Homo sapiens: one gene and its partners. The protein of the gene in region 3 interacts with the protein of the main gene of each other region in a pairwise test. Each region holds a gene or a part of one and is shown on either strand. Other genes may lie near its edges.

Region 1 (2,529 bases), on a different chromosome or scaffold from region 3:
CCCCAGATTCAGCAGCTGTAAGTGACAACCGGGTTTCTTCGGGTCTTGTTGTGGTTAAATTTCCTTTTATTGTGGGTAAATTCACTTAACATAAAACTAACCACTTTAAAGTGTGCAACTTAATGGCATTAAGGACTTTCACACTGTCATGCAACTGTCACCACTATCACACTGTCATGCAACTGTCACCACCATCACACTGTCATGCAACTGTCACCACCATTGAGCACCAACCCATCTTCATCACCTCCGAAAGAAGCCCCTTCCCCCTCAGCTGTCACTCCCCAACCCCTCTCCTATCCCCTGACAACCACGCATCCCCTTCCTGTCTCTGTGGATGGGCCTGTCCTGGACATTTCGTAGAAATGGGATCACACACTGCGTGAACTTTGGTGTCTGGCGTCTCTCACTGAGCGTGACGTCCTCAAGGTGCATGTGTGCTGGGGCCTGGGTCAGGGCCTCGCTCCTTTTCATGGCTGAGTAATATTCCAGTGTGGAGGGACCACGCTGTGCTGATCCACACATCTATCCATGGACATTTGGGCTGTTTCTACCTTTTGTCTGTTGTGAACGGTGCTGCTTGAGCACGGGTGTGCAATCGTCTGTGTGAATCCTGTTTTCGTTTCTCTTGGATATAAACTTCTGAGTGCACTCGCTGGCTCATAGGGTCACTCCCCAGTAAGCGCTGTGCGCACTGGGGAGCTGCTCACCTGTTTTCATGGTGAAATCTTTTTTTCTTTCTCCTTTTTTTTTTTTTGAGACAGAATCTTGCTCTGTCACCCAGGCTGGAGTGCAGTGGCAGAATCTTGGCTCACTGCAACCTCTGCCTCCCGGGATCAAGTGGGTCTTCCCAAGTAGCTGGAATTACAGGCATCCACCACCATGCCCGGCTGATTTTTGCATTTTTAGTAGAGATGGGGTTTCACCATGTTGGCCAGGCTGGTCTTGAACTCCTGACCTCAGGTGATCCACCCGCCTCAGCCTCCCAAAGTGCAGGGATGACAGGTGTGAGCCACCGCGGCTGGCCCACGGTCAAATCTTAAAGCATGGTTTCCCAGCCACAGCACCGTGGCCATTTGAGCTGGACCAGTTTCTGGAGCAGGGCCGTCCTGGGCACTGCAGGGTGCTGAGCACTGTCTCTAGCCTCCATCCACTCCATGCCAGGAGCACCCCCTGCCCCTGTCTTGGCGTAACCCAATCATGGCTGTTGCAAATGTCCGCTGCCATTGCAGGGGTCCTCTGGGGGCAGGATCACCCCCTGGCTGAGAACTACGCTCTTTAGGCCAAAGAAAGAGGGGTGTTCTGGGAAAGCAGGTGAAAGTCACAGGGTGGGTTTGGGCCCTGGAGGCCCACCAGGTGGTGAGAGAGAATCCTCTCCTGCAGGGGAAGGTGAAGGGCTGAGAGGGATTCTCTCCCGGGCCACTGCGAGGGCCTGCAGTGGGGGTGGCGGTCAGGCTGTCCCGGCTGCGAGTCACGCGCTCTCTCCTGCAGCATGTCCGGCATGATTTCGGGTGGCAACAACCCCTTGGGAACTCCCGGCACCAGCCCCTCGCAGAACGACCTGGCCAGCCTCATCCAGGCGTGAGTGGAACTGCTTCCAAGAGGACGGAGGACGTGGGCGGCGGGCAGGGCTCGCAGGCGGAAGGGAAGGAGGAGAGCGAAAGTGCTGCGTCCCCTGCTCCGAAGGGCCCAGCGTCCTCCAGCGAGGGGTCAGGCCTGTCTTTGGGGTGGAGGGCCCGAGGGGTCAGCTGGGGATGGACGGAGGCAGCAGGCAGCCTCCTGGCCCTGGCTGAGCCCCATGTGCCCTTCCCCGCAGGGGCCAGCAGTTTGCCCAGCAGATGCAGCAGCAGAACCCAGAGTTGATAGAGCAGCTCAGGAGCCAGATCCGGAGTCGGACGCCCAGCGCCAGCAACGACGACCAGCAGGAGTGACGCTGCGTGAGTGCATGGGGCCGGGGGCTGGGGGGTGGCCAGCAGGAGTGACACCACGTGAGTGCCTGGCAGTGAGGGCAGCCAGCAGGAGTGACGCCCGGGGGCTGTGGAGCCTGTCTGGACACTGGACAGCGAGTCCTGGGTGCATCCAGCTCAGAAGATCACCCTGAACCGCCCAGGCAGGTGGGGGCATCTCTGGGCATTGGGCCCCTTTCCAGGTGGCCACCAAGTCCTGCTCCCCACTCCTTTCCCATCTGTGGATCGGCGCTGGGTGGAGATTAGGGGAGAGCCACAGCTCCCTGGAAGGGCTGGTGTCTGGGGTCCCCCCTGCCTAAGGCCGCCTGCAGAAGCTCTTTGTTTCTGCAGTGTCGGGGCTGCCACCTCGGGGGTGGGGGCGAGGTCATCGAGTGGTGGAAAGGACAAGCCGGGTACCTGCCTTTGACTGCGCCCGAGCGTTCTGCCTGCATTTTGTGAGGGATTTTTTGTCCTTTTCTCACTGTGAGCAGGTGTTGCACTTACAGTTGTTTAAAAATACACTCAGTGTCCCCCATGGGTTCCAGGGGCCCGTGGCTGGCTTGGTTTCCTTCCCCAGGGGCCC
Region 2 (4,051 bases), on a different chromosome or scaffold from region 3:
CTAATCCCAACACTTTGGGAGGCTGAGGCAGGCAGATCACTTGAGGTCAGGAGTTCGAGATCACCCTGGCCAACATGGTGAAACCCCGTCTCTACTAAAAATATAAAAAGTAGCCGGGCGTGGTGGCAGGCACCTATAGTCCCAGCTACTTGGGAGGCTGAGGCAGGAGCATGGCTTGAACCTGGGAGGCAGAGGTTGCAGTGACCTGAGGTCACACTACTGTACTCCAGCCTGGGCAACAAAGCAAGACTCCGTCTCAAAAAAACAAAATAAAGGTTGATGGCCGGGCATGGTAGCTCACACCTGTAATCCCAGCACTTTGGGAGGCCGAGGCAGGTGGATCATTTGAAGTCAGGAGTTTGAGACCAGCCTAGCCAACATGGTGAAACCCCATCTCTACTAAAAATTAAAAAAAAAAAAAAAAAAAAAAATAGCCATGTGTGGTGGCACACACTTATAATCCCAGCTACTCAGGAGGCTGAGGCAGGAGAATCTTTTGAGCCTGGGAGGCAGAGGTTGTGGTGAGCCAAGATCGCACCACTTCACTCCAGTCTGGGTGACAGAGTAAGACCCTGTCTCAAAAAAAAACCGTTAAGCCTGTCTTCCTACACACAACTTCCATTGACTCTTCAGAAAGAAGGGTGATGGGCCCAGCGTGGTGGCTCATGCCTGTAATCCTAGCACTTTGGGAGGCTGAGGCGGGTGGATCACCTGAGGTTGGGAGTTCAAGACTAGCCTGACGAACATGGAGAAACCCCATCTCTACTAGAAATACAAAATTAGCCCGGCATGGTGGCACATGCCTGTAATCTCAGCTATTCGGGAGGCTGAGGCAGGAGAATCACTTGAACCTGGGAGGCGGAGGTTGCAGTGAGCCGAGATTGTGCCATTGCACTCCAGCCTGGGCAACAAAACCACACCTAGCAAAGGGTTCTAGGAAGAGCAGAAGTTTGGAGTAGATGATAAAAGAGAGAGAAGAAGTCAAAGCCAACAGCCCTTTACGGATCTCCAAGCACCCTTAGTGCTCTTGGCCTGGGTCTGCATAGAGAAAGGGAAGGCAGGAAGAAGGGAAACAAATTTTGATGGGGCTGGAAGAGAGGGCCTATACTTCCAAGCTCCCAAAGGCTTTTTTAGAAAAGAAGAAGGTGCAGTTGAGTAGGGTGGGGTAGGGTGGGGCAGGGGTGGGTAAAGTGGGAGTGGCCTGAATCTTCCAACGGCTGGATTTCAAAAATGTCACTGTATTCCAGCACTTCAATAAGACAAAGATCAAAACGTCAGCAGCTAAGAGGATGGGCCCGAGCAAAGACTGCCTGGCCCCGCTGGGAAAATGAAAGTGGCTCACCCCAAGGAGGGAAGGACAGTGCCCCCAACCCTCGAAGACACTAGGCAGAGGGCCAAGGGAGGAGTGCGGCCAGACCTGGGCATAACACAACTTCCTGAGCTGGGAGCCTCTGCCCTCTGCCTCCCTCCCTCCCTTGCATTCCTGGGCCAAGCAGGCCAAGGGCTGTGGGAGCTGCGGGGGAGCCGATCTCTCATCTCCCGGAGCTCTTTTGGTGGGCCTGTCAGAGCCCAAGGAAGGTCCCAGACACGCAGAGTGGCAGAGTGAGGGAGAACTTCCCAACCCTTAGAACCCAGGACAAGGTCATGCTGAGGGGGGGCCACCGCCAAGCCCTTGGGAGGGAAAAGGGGGATTGCCCTGCCTTCCTGACCTCGCTCCAACACGCTGGACAGATGCCAACTTGAGAGTTATGTCTTAGTGGGCATCATGTGTTCAGAGCCAGCTTGGGCAAAGCTAGCACAGTGCCAAGCCCGCTAACAAAGTTCTAACAGGACCCTTTCTGCCACTCCGATGTGTCCTGGGTGCCCAGAGTTCTTCGAGCTGGCAGGGCTAGTTCTGTTTTGCTCAAGCCCCTCCCCCCGGCTCCAAATAGTTGGCAAATCCCAATCTGACCGAATTCAGGCCGGCCCCAGCCCCAACTTGTCCCTGATACCCCCACCATTCCTTATATCCTCCCCGACCCTCTCCCAGAGACCACCACTTCCCTCTCTGTCCTGTCTTGACAATTCCCCTTGACACTGCCAGTCACCCGCTGGGGGCAGTTCCGGGGAGGGAGGAGACTATGGCAAAGTTATCGGCCTCCAGGCCCTCTCACTCCCTTCCTGCGGCCGGCCAGGGGCGCCGGCCCGCCGCCCTCTCCACTCCCCGCCAGGCACGCAGCCACCTGGGCGAACTCACCGCGCTTTCAGCTCCTTAAACTCCTCACGCACTTTGCTCAGCTCCAGCTGCAGGCGGGCGCGCTCCTTGGCTACTGAGTCAAGGGTCTTGCGGGCATCCCCGAGCTCGGCCTCGTAGGCGGCCTTGATGCCGGACACCTCGCGGCTGACCACCTCTTCAGACTCGGTGATGCGAAGGCGCAGCCCTGCGTTCTCCGTTTCCAGCGAGCGCACACGGTCGATGTAGACCGCCAAGCGATCATTGAGCTCCTGCAGGTCCTCCTTCTCCTGCAGCCGGGTGATGCGGGTGGGCGACAGCGGAGTGGAGCTGGCCTGCGCCCCGCTGCGGGTGGCGCGCCGCTGGGACGGGGTCTCCATGGCCGGCAGGTTGGCAGCGCTGCCCGCGGGGCAGGGGTCCCGGAAAGGGCGCGGGGCTCGGGTCGAAGGACAGAGACTGCTCGGAGTCGGAGTGCGCCGGCCGGCTGGCTCTCGGCTTGCTCCTGGCAGGCGTGGGGATCTGGGCCGGGCGCTGTCGGACCTCGGGATCTGGGTTGGCTGGTGTAGGTGCGGCGCTCCCGCGAACACTGAGTCACCGACGCCGGGGCAAAGGCTCTAATAGGTCCTCCTCTGAAGGGAGGAGGGGCCACTACTCTTAAAGGGGCAGTCCCAGATCCATTGGGGGTGGGGGCGGGAGTGGTGAGGAGGGGGAAGGACCGTTGGGGTGTGGCGGAGTCGGGCCCCACCCTCTCCAGCGCACCCCTAACTGCGTGAGGCTCAAGCTTCCCCTCTCTTGGCTCCTGCCTGCTCAGCACTGTCGGCTCCAAGCTTGCCCCCATTGCCTCAGACCTTCTGGGCTAGAGGGCAGAGCCAAGGAGGGAGAGTGGGTGGGCAAAAGGGTCGGGGAGAAAGAGAGGGAAGTGGGCGCAAAGCAAGGGAGAGGGTCAGGTAGGCAGGGCTGGGAGCCAGGAAAGTGGGGGGAGGGCTGAGGCTGGTGCCCATCAGTGTGACTCACCCTTCTTCCACCACTGGCTCCCCCTGTCCTCCCAGTAGTAATAGTGAGTCACCCCAACCCCCCTCCACACGTGGGCAGCCCATTCAGAGCTGCATCTCAGTGTGCCAGGAGTGGGGTGGAGAAGGAATGCCTGGGTTCCCTGGGGGGAGCAAAGTTCTGGAACCTGAGTTCCTTTATGCCCCCAGTTTGGGGCCAGGGATCAAGGAGTTTGGGGGGTCCCTTTTTTTCTTTCTTTTGCCCCAATCTATCTCTCTTCAAAGCCAAGCATTCGTTTTTAGACCCAAGCAACAAGCCACAGTCCCCTAAAGAAGTCCCCTAAAGAAAGCCAAGAATAGGAGCCAGGCACTGCCCCTTCCATCTCCTGTCCCCTTCCTTTGGACCCAAGCACTGCCTGGGTTCCTTCCCCCTTCAGTCCCTTTCTACTGCTTACCGCACCCAGTCAACTTATTTTTTTCCCCCAGAACTGTACTTATTTTAATGGATAATTTAAAACAGATACCAGAGCTGTGCATGCATTCATTACGTTGCCAAGACACTAGGTCCCAGATTTCTGTGGTTCCCAGAGGGGCCTGAAAGGGGAAGCAGGGCTGGGGGCTGGACAGCCAATATTGGGTCTCTATCCTGGTTTCAGCCAGAAAGAAGGTAGTGGGGGGCAAGAAGGTAGTGGGGGACAGGAACAGCAAAGACCCCACAGCCTTGCTGGCTGCAAAGGCCAGCACCATACTCATCTCTACTTTCCTCTCTGGCCAGGTCCATTCTGCAGCTGGCTCTGGGGAGGGGCCAGGCTCTCTCACAAAACGAGATCACTCAGGTCCCCAGGGTTCG
Region 3 (3,162 bases):
GTGTTGCCAGGTATCTTGGCCACTTTTATTATTGTTCTTGTCATATTCCACTGTAATTACAAATTTTTTTTTGAGATGGAGTCTCACTCTTGTCACCCAGGCTGGAGTGCAGTGGCACAATCTCGGCTCACTGCAGCCTCCGCCTCCCGGGTTCAAGTGATTCTCATGCTTCAGCCTCCTGAGTAGCTGGGATTACAGGCATGTGCCACCAAACCTGGCTAATTTTTTTTGTATGTTCCTGTAATTACAAATTTATATGCTTGTTTCCTCTCCTAGACAGTGACTCCTTAAGAGTTGGTCTGAGGCTGGGCACAGTGGCTCACGCCTGTAATCCCAGCACCTTGGGAGGCCAAGGTGGGTGGATCACGAGGTCAGGAGATCGAGACGCTCCTGGCTAACACGGTGAAACCCCGTCTCTACTAAAACATAAAAAAAAAATTAGCCAGGCGTGGTGGCAGGCGCCTGTAGTCCCAGCTACTCGGGAGACTGAGGCAGGAGAATCACTTGAACCCGAGAAGGCTGCAGTGAGCCGAGATGGCGCCACTGCACTCCAGCTGGGGCAACAAGAGCAAAACTCCATCTCAAAAAAAAAAATGGGTCTGACCGGCTGGGCGCGGTGGCTCACGCCTGTAATCCCAGCACTTTGGGAGGCCGAGTTGGGTGGATCACGAGGTCAGGAGATCGAGACCATCCTGGCTAACACGGTGAAACCCCGTCTCTACTAAAAAATAAAAAAAAATTAGCCAGGCGTGGTGGCGGGCGCCTGTAGTCCCAGCTACTTGGGAGGCTGAGGCAGGAGAATGGCATGAACCCAGGAGGCGGAGCTTGCAGTAAGCCGAGATCGCGCCACTACACTCCAGCCTGGGCGACAGAGTGAGACTCCATCTCAAAAAAAAAAAAAAAAAAAAAAAAGAGTCTGGATATTAGTTGCTGTGGGCACCTAGCCTGGCCCCTAGCAAACAGTAGGTCTTCAATGCCTGTTGAGTCAATGAATGAATGAATGTCTGGATAATTGCCAAAATAAGTGGTCTATACAGAGGGGAGGAAGGCTGATCTGGGCATGAAGAGTAGGGAGGGCAGAGAAGAGAGGGCATTCCTAGCTACGAAGCCAGCCTAAGCAAAGGCTGCTTGTAGCCTAAGGGCATGGTGTGCCCAGGAGCACGGAGGGCTTGCCTGGTATATCACTTGTCTCCAGCCACAAACCTCACCTGGACATTCCGTCCTGCCTGGCAATCTTACATTCCCCCACGAAGCTTGCTTTCATAATCAGCAAGTTGAGATTTTGTACCATTTCTCCTCAAATCTCCTGTCTCCATCTCCCTAGTTGTCCAGAGGACCTAGAAGTCATCGAGCAAAGGTTCCCTCATCTCCCCCCAGCAAATCTACAAACCCACCTGGTCTCTTGTTCTCCTTTGACCCTCTGGTAATGGTGGGAGATGTGTCCTCTCTTCTTTCTGGAAACTTCCCTCTCCCCTTTTTGGATGTGGCCCCTGCATGGACCCCTCACCCCTGCACCAGCCACCTCGCCTTTCATGCAGACCATGTCCAGTACACAGGCACATTCTAGCTGGGTTCAAATCTTGGCTCCACCACTTAGTATCTCATGGCCTCAGACAAGTTGTGTAACCTCCATCTGTAAAATGGAGGTAATTAGAGTATCTTCCTTTTAGGGCTGTTGTGAGGATTAGATAAGACCAAACACAAGTGCCAGACACAGTGCCTATCTCAAGAAAGCCCTCAGTACATGTTAGATCAGATGAAAATAGTATTGTTCACAGAACTAAACTTTTCCTTGGTCCACACACCCCTCCACCTACTGGCCTATTTCTCTGCTCCTTGTTACAGAGAAACTTCTAAAAAGGGTTGTCCTAGGCCGGGTGCAGTGGCTCATGCTTGTAATCCCAGCACTTTGGGAGGCCGAAGCGGGTGGAACACCTGAGGTCGGGAGTTTGAGACCAGCCTGACCAACATGGAGAAACCCTGTCTCTACTAAAAATACAAAATTAGCCAGGCGTGGTGGCGCATGCCTGTAATCTCAGCTACTGGGGAGGCTGAGGCAGGAGAATTGCTTGAACCCGGGAGGTGGAGGTTACGGTCAGCCGAGATCGTGCCATTGCACTGGATCCAGCCTGGGTGACAAGAGTGAAACTCTGTCACAAAAAAAAAAAAAAAAAAAAAAAAAAAAAAAAAAAAAAAGGTTGTCCCTGCCTCCAGTTCCTTATTTCTCATTTTCTTCTCAACCCAATGCACACTGCCTTCCTGTTCTAACTATGCCACTGAAACCACCCTCTTTAAGGTCAGCAGGACTTTCACGTTACCAAACCCAGCCATCATTTCTCTGTTCTCATTTCATGTGATCTCTCAGCTGCATTCAACACAGACAGCCACATCCTCCTTGAAACAGTGGTTTCTCCGAATCCAGGATGCCACCCTCCCTGGGTTTCTTCCTCTCTCTCCAGCTTCTTTTCAGTCTCTGCTGGTTTTCCCCTCAGCTCCACTTCAAGATGCCCAAGAGTCTCAGGGCTTCATTCGTGGGGCCCTTCTTTCTCCTGGCGTCTCACCCAATCCTGTGGCTTTAAATGCCATCGATAGGCCGGGCACAAGGGCTCACACCTGTAATCCCAGCACTTTGGGAGGCTGAGGCTGGCGGATCACCTGAGATCAGGAGTTCAAGACCAGCCTGGCCAACACGGTGAAACCCTGTCTCTACTAAAAAATACAAAAATGAGCTGGGTGTGGTGGCACCCGCCTATAATCTCAGCTACTTGGGAGGCTGAGACAGGAGAATCGCTTGGACCCAGGAGGCAGATGTTGCAGTGAGCCAAGATCGAACCACTGCACTCCAGCCTGGGTGACAGAGCGAGACTCTGTCTCAAAAAAAAAAAAAAAAAAGCCATCCATATGGCCATGACTCCTGGCTTTATCCGTCCTGACCTAGCCTAAGCTAGTCGACAATGTCCAGCCATCCATTTCTGGAATTTACTTTATTGTCATTTATCCGCTTGTTTATTTTAGACTTCTCAACGTTAATAATTATCTTACATACTTCCCAACCTATTTATTCCTTGGTCAATCCCTTCTTAGGAAATGGCATCATTCTTCCCAGAGATACCCAAGTTAAAAATCTAGAAGCTGGCTGGGTGCAGTGGCTCATGCCTGTAA
Region 4 (3,500 bases), on a different chromosome or scaffold from region 3:
GAACCCTATTTTTGGTAGTTGAGAATGCCGCACATATGTAAAAGAGAACAGGCTGTTAAAGCAGGAACAGAGTTGGAGGAGCTGGGTGATGTAGATTAATATTTGGGCCTAGAATAGCAAGGTAAATTGGCCATGGGAGTAAAGCCGTTTTCATAGAGCTTTGTCAACTCTCTCCTACTTGGGGAGCTCTAGTTCCTGAAGACCCTTTAGTTAGAGTCTTAAGAAAAGTAGCTAGGTCAAATGAAAAAGATTTTTTTTCCTTAAAGTATTTGCATTGGGTGTTTTTGGAGACCTGTCTTCCTAACAGTCCAAGTTAAAATCTAATTGTACTTGGCTGGGGCTAGAGATTGGAAGTAGCTTTTAAGGTCAGATACCACTTTAAAATTTATTTGTATAATTCACTTCAGTGAAAAAATAAGCTCTCAGCAATTAGTAGCCAACCTAGATATGTTCTTTTGAATACAGGCTCCTTATAAATAAGCACCTCCTGTACAAGGCTTAATTTTAAATAGTTGCCCTGAGATTCCTTTCTTAAATTTGAGTTTTGAGTCTCTTCCATTAGGGAAGCTACTACGTCTTCCCCAGTTTTTATTATAGCAACTGAAATTATGGAAGGAGTTTTATTTTGTGAAACAGAGGTCAAAAATGTTTGCTGGATTCTTCTCTCATATATTTTTTTTCCCCAGTCTTCAGGATGTGCTTATGCAGGATTCCAGGTTATATCTCATCTTTGAGTTTCTTTCCATGGATCTGAAGAAATACTTGGATTCTATCCCTCCTGGTCAGTACATGGATTCTTCACTTGTTAAGGTAAAAGCTTAACTAATTTTATTAATATTTATGCACTGTGGATATAAAGGGACTATATATAGAAGTCCCTGCATTTTGTGGGAATATGCTTGGAAAAAGTGTTAGAATAAGAAAAAGTATTTCATTTTTCTCCCTCATGGTTAGTTTATACAGGTTAGAGATACCCATGTTATTACCAGATAGTGTTTCTAGTAAGTAAAAATTAGTGCCTGAGATAACATAGAACTGGTAGGTATTGTTGGAAGCTAGGGTAGTCTGGTCTTTCTTTGGCTGTCAGATACATGTAAAACAAAGTAATGAAAGCCTAGGGCAGAGTGGTGGTTGTAGGTGTTTTATTCCAGTTTTGAACATGTTTTGGTCAATTTATTGTAGACATTTATTATATTTCAGGTAAATTATAAAATTGTATAGTTTTAAGTACTGAAGTATATAAAAGTGTCTTATTCTTGCACCAGTTCTACCAAACCACTCTGCAGAGGTAGCGCTGTTAGTTTTATTTGTAATCTTACACTTGTATGTATGTTCACTTTGTATGTATATAAAGATTTTTTTTTTTACACAAGGTGGACTTATTTGCATATGTATATATACATATTTTCCCTTTTTTGTGTAAAACATTATCAAGACGTAGATCTACCTATGTCTATTTACATTTTTGATATAATTAAACCACTTCCATATTGATGAACATTTAAATTATTTTCCAACTTGGTTATTGTTGCTCTTATTAACAGTACTGCACTGAATGTCCTTATAGATATTTATCTTCGTATGCAACTTTATAGGATAAATTTTTAGAATGGGAATGATGGATTGAAGATGTTTATTTACATTTTGATAGATATTGCCGGTTGCCCCCTAAAAAACTTGTAGCAATTTACTCTTAAATACTCATGGTGTGTAATACTTATTGTTTTAGTACATCATTGCCAAAACTTGGTTTTATCAATCTGTTAACTATGTGAAAAAGGCATATTAAGATTGTTTTAATTTTATATTTCATGACAATTTAACACTTCATATTTAGCTATTATAAACCGCCTATATTTTCGTTAGGATACGTTCTTTAACAATCTTGCATGACTTTTGGACTTTCTGCTTTTATGTCTTGCTTAAGTCTTCCTCACTCAAAGATCGAATGTATTAGAATAATACATGTCAGTATTTTTCTGGTAGTTTTAGTAAGTCCTGTCTTCCACACATACTTTTTTTGTCTTAAATTCTGTATTAAGATTTATTTTGACTTAAAAACTGGGATACAGATTCTGCTTTATCTTTTTCCAAATGGCTAGCCAGTTGTTCTAACTGGTTTTATGTACAGGCAACAATGGTTTTACTTACAATTTTTCAGTTTTACAATGAAGCAGAAATGATGCACATTCACTAGAAACCATACTTCATTTACCCATACAACCATTCTGTTTTTTCACTTTCAGTACAGTATTCAATAAATAATGAGGTATTCAACACTTCCAACTATATGCTAATGTAAGTGTTTTGAGCACAATTAAGGTGGGCTACGCTTAGCTACGTTTGGTAGGTTAGGTGTGTTCAATGCATTTCGACAAGGTATTTTCAGCTTAGAATGAGTTTAACCAGATGGATCATCCGTTTTGTTTTGTTTTTTGAACACCACTTGTCCCTCTAAGATGGAGCATCTGTATTACTTTCCAATTTCAAACTGTAAGTCATTTTTCTGTGTACTTTGTTTTTGTAATATCCATGCTACTTCAGATGTCAATGACATTGTCTTTGGCAACAAATGTCTTGTAAAGCACTTTTCTCTGAACTAAGCAGCATTTTATGATAATTTTATCCATTGAAATATATAATCATAATATCTTTGCCATCACTTTTAGAATCTAATTTTTTCAAGAAGGAAATGAATATGTAAAAATGAAAGATAGAAAAGGCCAACTGTATTGAAGATACAAAATAGAGTTGGTAGCGGTATATAGAAGAAAAATCAAGAGGCTTCTGTGTAGAAAACCAATTTGTAATTTAAGGATCGGGGACCAAAAATGTTTAAAGACTAAATGTGTTCACATTACTATAGATATGTCTATAAGGTGAAGATTCTTTTCTTAGGTATACAAATGTGATGTTGTATATAAATGGGCTTCCCACCCACAAATGCTTATTAGCCTAAAATGGCCTGAAAGCTCTAGTAATTAAATTATTTCTCTGCGTCCTAATTTTTTGTCTTTGAAACAGATTATTTAGAAAATCATGTACTTCGCTTAAGTTTCTAACTTTTACTTGCTTTTTCCAGAGTTATTTATACCAAATCCTACAGGGGATTGTGTTTTGTCACTCTAGAAGAGTTCTTCACAGAGACTTAAAACCTCAAAATCTCTTGATTGATGACAAAGGAACAATTAAACTGGCTGATTTTGGCCTTGCCAGAGCTTTTGGAATACCTATCAGAGTATATACACATGAGGCAAGTGGAATAGTGGTTTTTGATGGCTTTTGAATGTGTGTGATTGCTAGATTATTTTCTGTATTTGTGAAAGTCAAGAAATAACTCAATAAAAGATATCTACTCTGTGGCAGTATCAATTTATTGCCTCTCAGCTCCAAATTCATTGCATGCTATGTGAAAATGGAACTGAAGCCTTTAAGTATTTTTTCTTTACCAGCTGCTATGTTGTTAAGGTAGAGGGTACTAGAGGGACATGGCAGGAGGA

What was found. Proteins that work in one complex are often made in the same cells at the same time.
Region 1: the proteins of TNFSF12 (region 3) and SGTA interact in binary tests that used the Homo sapiens proteins (3 or more experiments, as listed by UniProt).
Region 2: the proteins of TNFSF12 (region 3) and LMNA interact in a two-hybrid assay, tested with the Homo sapiens proteins (one large-scale study listed by BioGRID).
Region 4: the proteins of TNFSF12 (region 3) and CDK1 interact in binary tests that used the Homo sapiens proteins (3 or more experiments, as listed by UniProt).

Annotation. Positions count from the first base shown.
Region 1 is NC_000019.10:2,756,745-2,759,273, reverse strand, and holds part of SGTA (small glutamine-rich tetratricopeptide repeat-containing protein alpha), read left to right. Parts: coding exon 1-17; intron 18-1,491; coding exon 1,492-1,581; intron 1,582-1,816; coding exon 1,817-1,931; 3' UTR 1,932-1,937; intron 1,938-2,529. UniProt on the Homo sapiens protein: Co-chaperone that binds misfolded and hydrophobic patches-containing client proteins in the cytosol. Mediates their targeting to the endoplasmic reticulum but also regulates their sorting to the proteasome when targeting fails.
Region 2 is NC_000001.11:156,113,460-156,117,510, reverse strand, and holds the start of LMNA (lamin), read right to left. Parts: upstream 2,801-4,051; 5' UTR 2,593-2,800; coding exon 2,237-2,592; intron 1-2,236.
Region 3 is NC_000017.11:7,552,058-7,555,219, reverse strand, and holds part of TNFSF12 (tumor necrosis factor ligand superfamily member 12 proprotein), read right to left. Parts: intron 1,634-3,162; exon of another isoform or gene 1,395-1,633; intron 1-1,394. UniProt on the Homo sapiens protein: Binds to FN14 and possibly also to TNRFSF12/APO3. Weak inducer of apoptosis in some cell types. Mediates NF-kappa-B activation. Promotes angiogenesis and the proliferation of endothelial cells. Also involved in induction of inflammatory cytokines.
Region 4 is NC_000010.11:60,784,978-60,788,477, forward strand, and holds part of CDK1 (cyclin-dependent kinase 1), read left to right. Parts: intron 1-686; coding exon 687-810; coding exon of another isoform or gene 811-822; exon of another isoform or gene 823-2,092; intron 2,093-3,082; coding exon 3,083-3,253; intron 3,254-3,500. UniProt on the Homo sapiens protein: Plays a key role in the control of the eukaryotic cell cycle by modulating the centrosome cycle as well as mitotic onset; promotes G2-M transition via association with multiple interphase cyclins.